2 separate regions of the Homo sapiens genome follow, and region 2 is linked to region 1. The links come from fine-mapping of genetic effects on gene expression. A gene starts in region 1. The other region holds a variant in brackets. All regions are shown on one strand. Distances are from middle to middle. Region 1 holds the start of WASHC5 (WASH complex subunit 5). Region 2 overlaps NSMCE2 (NSE2 SUMO ligase component of SMC5/6 complex).

What was found. PIP is the estimated chance that this variant, and not a neighbour inherited with it, causes the effect. A credible set is the group of variants that fine-mapping cannot tell apart.
Region 2: its variant is the best candidate, but not a certain one, in a credible set for the expression of WASHC5 in whole blood (TOPMed, PIP 0.65).

What each region holds. Positions count from the first base shown.
Region 1 is chr8:125,090,083-125,092,996 of GRCh38, reverse strand. WASHC5 (WASH complex subunit 5) reads left to right here and starts at 1,205. Exons shown (of 29, transcript NM_014846.4): 1 at 1,205-1,382. NSMCE2 (NSE2 SUMO ligase component of SMC5/6 complex) reads right to left here and starts at 1,137. Exons shown (of 8, transcript NM_173685.4): 1 at 1,039-1,137. RefSeq lists an enhancer at 1,046-1,265 and a silencer at 1,316-1,485.
Region 2 is chr8:125,169,200-125,172,113 of GRCh38, reverse strand. The region is part of intron 4 of NSMCE2 (NSE2 SUMO ligase component of SMC5/6 complex); the gene reads right to left. Among named protein-coding and RNA genes, the nearest start is that of NSMCE2, 79 kb to the right of the region's middle. The variant A/G (reference allele first, on the strand shown) is at 1,376.

The DNA.
Region 1 (2,914 bases):
TTAGCAGTATCTGTAGACTTTGTGGTTGGCATCTAGCGGGCAGAGGCCAGGGATGCTCTTAAGCATCCTACAAAACACAGGACAGCCCTCACCCTGACCCCACAGCAAAAAATTATCTGGCCTAAAATGTCAATAGTGCATCAGTTGAGAATAACTGGTTTAAATCAATCTCTCTTGGATCCCTCCCCAGGTAATAACACTGATCTTTTTCTTCCCGGTACCTATGATCTCCAAGAAAGTTTAGAACAAGTTGTGCATTTCCTGAGTTTTTTCTCTGCATGTTATTTATAGACAATATGTTGACTTCCTTTAAATCCATGGGAGCCTTGTACAAGTCAGCCAGAGCTGCCTCTCCTTTTTCAACATGCAAGGATAATCCCTTCTCTCTGAATCCTTCTCATACAATTGCTTTTCCCTCCCTCATGCTACCATTATCCCTATCACATGCACATGTACACAACACACTCCTATTATGAAACTCATCACAACTATTTGCTCACATGTCTGCAGCTTCTTTAAACTGACACCTCCTTAAACTAGAACCCTGACATATTCTATTGCATATAAAGCAATTCCTCACACAAAATAGGGGACCAATAAAGATTTGGCCAGTTACAAAAATAACAACAGACATCATCATTTCTCGGTCACCTACAGAATGCCATAAACTGGTGTCCCGGCACTTTATTCTCCTTATCGCTAATTCTCACTGCAATCTACATAACTGAAGAGGAAATTGAGGTCCAGAGAGTTTATTCAAACGACCTTCCCGTGGCCTTACTTTTAAAGTCAGTTCAAACAAAATCTATTTGGATCAAAAATTCGTAATCTTGCCCCTACACACTTGAGGCGAAAGGATGGAGAGATGGCGTCTCGGACAGGAGGGTAAACTGTCCCAGACTCACTACCGTGGCGTGAAAAGTTCCACAACCATAATCCGGGTAGACGGACCCCCGGCTCGGAGTCCCCGTGGAGTGTCCCTGAGGGTGGCGAAACTCCTGCCACCCTCCCCATTGCCGTCCCCCGCTTCTTCCCTACCTGGTAGTCCAAGCTGTCTCCGTCTGGTGGCACCCCAATTTCCCCTGCCTAGACCCACCTCCTTTCCTCAGCCCCCTTCGCCTGCCGCTGAAAAGTGAGAGCGGGCTCTTGCGTCATCAGCCGTCGCCGGCGAGTGGTCACATGATGCCCCTCCCTGCTCCCAGCCGCTTCGGTCATGTGACCGCCTGGGGAGTCAGGGGCGGAAGTCGGGGTCTGACCCGCTCCAGGTCCGGGACTGCGGATAGAAGAGGACCGCCGCCTTGAGGGAGGGGTGGAAACTGGGTGCCGGCTCCGCGCGCGACCTCCGGCCCTGCGCGTGCGCCGTGGCGCGGCCCGGCTGACAGGTGAGTGGGGATGGAGTGAGCGCGCCCCATTTTTGCATGGCCCCCTTCCCCTCCCCGCTGGGCCGCGCTGGCCACGGGGAGGTCTGCAGAGTCGCGTGCAGCCTGGATGGGGGACTCGGGATGGAGGGCTTAGGGGCTTTCTGGGGCGGGGGCTGTAATCCAGCTCTTCGTCTCCGCTTAGGGGGAAATCATTTTGCACACCCCTTCCTCGCTTTAGGAAGCACCGTTCAGCTGCTTGGTCCGAATCTCATCCTTCCAAGTTTCCGGGAACACTGCTGTATGGATGTCGTCGTTATTTCTCTTTGCTTTTGAGAAAACTGAAAGGCTAGTAGTGAGGACTTTTACAGGCTGACAGACGTGGATTTGCATTCTAGTTATGCCATGGGCTGTGAGTTTGGGCAAGTCATTGCTGCTCGCCGCGCCTTAATGCCTTCACCTGTGACATACTGATGTCAAAATCCTTTGCATTTGGGGGAAAAAAAAAAAGTTCCCAGGGCCCTGATTCCTGGGATCGGAATCAGGATTATGATCGGACAGGAGAAAGAAAAAAAGTCACAGAGCCATAAAACTGGGTCTCCTGATTGCAAGCGCATGGAGCTCCCTCAAACATAGGTGAGGCGTAGTGAGGGCGAAGTTTTACTGTCTTTGTGCACTACAAGGGACACCTTCTCTAATTGTCCTTCACCTGCCTTTCCCAGGATTTCAGGTTCAGCCTCATTTCAGAACTTTTCTGGAAAATATATGCAGCTTGCATTTATCTTGATCAGCAACCGTTATATTTTGTTTGTGATAATGGATTTGTGGAGACCAGTGCTTCCTTTATGGAACTGAGGTTTTGCGAAAGGCTAAAAATAGACCTGCCTTCTTTTGTCCTCTGAAGAGGGTAAACTGTTTGTCCACGACAATTCGATTTCCTTAAGAAATATTATTCTGTACTCAGGGTAATTGGTGTAAGGATGTCATGCCTTATTCTTGAAAGCATGTCTTTTGATTAGGATTACTTCCCAAACTGAAAATCACAGTTCCACGCCAAATTATTAAAAATGAAGTTACCGGCACTTGTAAAAGAAAATAAGAAAATATAGTGGGATCTCTGGATTTCATGCCAATAATAATATAGCCTGTATTGAGAAAACTGATCTTCAAGTGTTCTTGATCCCTAGCACCAAGAGAACCTCTGAAAGGATAATTTAACATAGCTTCTTCTACAGTGTTTATTTGGACCTAATTCTAAAGTGGTTTTTTAAGACTTAGCTGAGTCTTAACACTTTGTAAAGCCATCCACCTACCTCTTAGCTGCAACTTGATTAGGCATTTTTAATGATGGTTCTTAGATTCTGTTCTTCAGGACTAGTCCTTCAGCCAACGAGGGGGCTATTTACCAAATACTCTAGCCAAATTATATTTGTACAAATTATGGAAATTCCATTTGTTACATGGAAAATATAACTAGTCCGGGTTAGGAGGTCTAGTACATAAAATGTAACTAAGTGATTTCCTTCTTTCAGCTAATCTTGTTTTAACTTCTTCCA
Region 2 (2,914 bases), 79 kb before region 1:
TTGGGCAAGTTTCTTCACCACTCAGACAATCAATTTCTTCATCTATAATCTACTTAACCTTTGAGTATTAAATGAATTAATGTAGGTAAAGAATTTAGAGTTTTAAAATACAGTAGCCAACATGGTCATTAAAATCTAAATTAATTAAAATTAAATAAAATTAAACACTGAGTTCCTCGGTCACACTGCCAAGTGCTCAAGAGCTCTCTCTGCATGTGGCTAGTGACTACCACACCACTCTGGACAGAGCAGATATAGAACGTTTCCATCACTGCAGGAAGAGGCACTGGGAAGTGCTGACTTAGAGAATACTCTCTAGTACTTGGTAAGCACTCAAATGATCACAGCTGCTATTATTATTACTGGTATTCTTATGGTCACATTGTTGTTATTATTATTATTATAGCAAGTTTAAGATGTAGCCAGACAAAATCTGGTAGAAGAGATGAACAAGTCAGAAGCAATTTAAATGCTGTAATCTGATCAGAATTAGCAGCAGTATTAGTAGCAGCAGCTGCTCTCAACTATTTATTATTGGCAAGGTACTGAGGTAAGCACTTCATACTGTTTATTTTATTTAACCCTCCCCCAAACAAATAACATTATAGGTAAGAATGAATACATCCTATGCTATTGATTAGGAACTGAAGCTGAGGAGCGGTCTAATTACAAGGGGTTGAAGAGCTCAGTATTGGAGCTAGGACTGACTGCATTAGCAGGTCTGTTATATCGCTAAGTCCATGACATACTACTAACCCTAGACTTCAACTATTTACTTAGAGCCTATTAGAGGCCACACACTGCTCCAGGAGCTGGGAACACAGCAGTCAAGAGAACCAGTTCCTGCCCTTGTGGAGTTTGTATTCTACTTGAGTAGAAGAATAATAAGAAAATACGTAACTAGCTAAATGGTATAAGTGCCATGGAGAACAATTGAGCAGAGTGGAAATGAGTGAGCTCTTCTGTGATGGACGGTCAAGGCAGGCTTCAATGAAAAGACGACATCTGAACCAGAGACCTAAAGAAAATGAGGGGGTGAGCCATATAGTTGGAGTCACAGTAAAAAGGGTTTGGGAAGTAACAGGGGATGAGGTCAGTAGTATTAATCAAAGCAGGGTGCGAAGTGGGACAGATGACGGAGGGCTTTAGCTTTTATTCTGAGAGAGATGTGTGAAGGTTTTGCACAGAGTAGTAAAAACCTCTGATTTTCTTTTTAAAAGGGTCATTCTGGCTGTGAGGATGAGAACCACTTTAGGGGAGGAGGAGCAGAAGCAGGAGAGCAGTCAGTAGGCTGCTGCAGGCATCCAGGTAAAAAGTGATGATGGCATGGATTAGGGTGACAGTAGGAGAAACAGTGAGAGGTGGTTAGACTCTA[A/G]ATACATGTTGTAGGTAGAAATAATAAGGTTGGCTGGGTGCGGTGGCTCACGCCTGTAATCCCAGCACTTTGGGAGGCCAAGCCGGGTGGATCACCTGAGGTCAGGAGTTCGAGACCAGCCTGGCCAACATGGTGAAACCCCATCACTTCTAAAAACACAAAAGTTAGTCGGGCATGGTGGCACATGCCTGTAAATCCCAGCTACTCAGGAGGCTGAGGCAGGAGAATCTCCTGAACCCGGGAGGTGGAGTTTGCAGTGAGCCGAGACAGCGCCATTTGCACTCCAGCCTGCCCAAGAGGCCAAGAGAGCGAGACTCTGTCTTAAAAAAAAAAAAAAAAAAAAAAAAAAAAAAAAAAAAAAAGAAATAAAGAGTAAGGTTTATTGATGGACTGGATATGGGCTGTGAAAAAATTAAGGAACAAAGGACAACTCTGGATTTTGGTCTAATTAAAAATGGAATAGTAATACTGCCATTTTCTAAGATGGGGAAGTCAGGAGGAACAGCTGGTTTTGGAGAAAAACAAGAGTTTAGTTTTGGAAGGTTAAATGTGCAATGCCTATGAGAATGAAATAAAGTGAAAATGAAGAGAAGACAGTTATATGTCTGAGATGTGGTTTTGGAGAGAGGACTAGGTTACAGCTACAAATGCTATGAAAAATGATTAACTTCATGATGTTATGAGAGCACATGAGAGTAATCCACTTGGCAAACAGAGATGGGATGATATCAGAGCAGGCTGTAAGAAAGGAGCTAGCCTCAGTCTGTGGAGAGTAAGAAAGAGTCAGCTATTTGGAAATGAAAAAAAAAAAGCACTCCCAGTAGATAGTGTGTGCTAAGGCCAGAGGCAAGAGAACATTCAAAGAGCTAGTGTAAAAGAATAGTACAAAATGAGACTAGAGAGGTAAGGAGGGGTGTACACCATGTAAAGAAATTTGAGCTTAAAGCTGAAAGTAACAAGGAAAAACTGAAGAAGGTAAAGTTATGGAAAAGGCAGGAAAAAAAAAATCAAATGTTCACTTTAGAAAGATCTCGTGGGCTACCAGATAAGAAATATAGGAGAAGACAGCAACTGTGTGCAGCCAGTGTGCCCAAGGGGACTGAAGACTGTGAACATGGGAATGGAGGTAGGTGAATTAATTTGAGAAGCAGGAAAATTTGGAGATGGAATGTAAAATGTGAAGAGCTAAGTAGGGGAAGTAAGGACGACAACAGATTTCTGATAGGAGAAACTGGGTGGATGATATTACCATTTACGAAGTTACAGAATCCCAGGAGAAAATCATGGGGAAAACGTCACTGTGGGACACTGAATTTAAGGAGCCTATAGCACATTTAAGTAGAGAATGTCAAATCTATCATTAAGTTTATGTGTGTGGTTCTAAGATGAGAAATCTAGAATGGAAATAAAGATCTGGGACTCAGCAGCATAAAGACAGCAATTCAAGTTATGAGCATAGATGCTATTTCTCAGGAAGAGTATGCAGTGTGAGAAAGAAAATCGAAGAACGGGTAGGAATAGCAGGCTTTACTGAGTGAA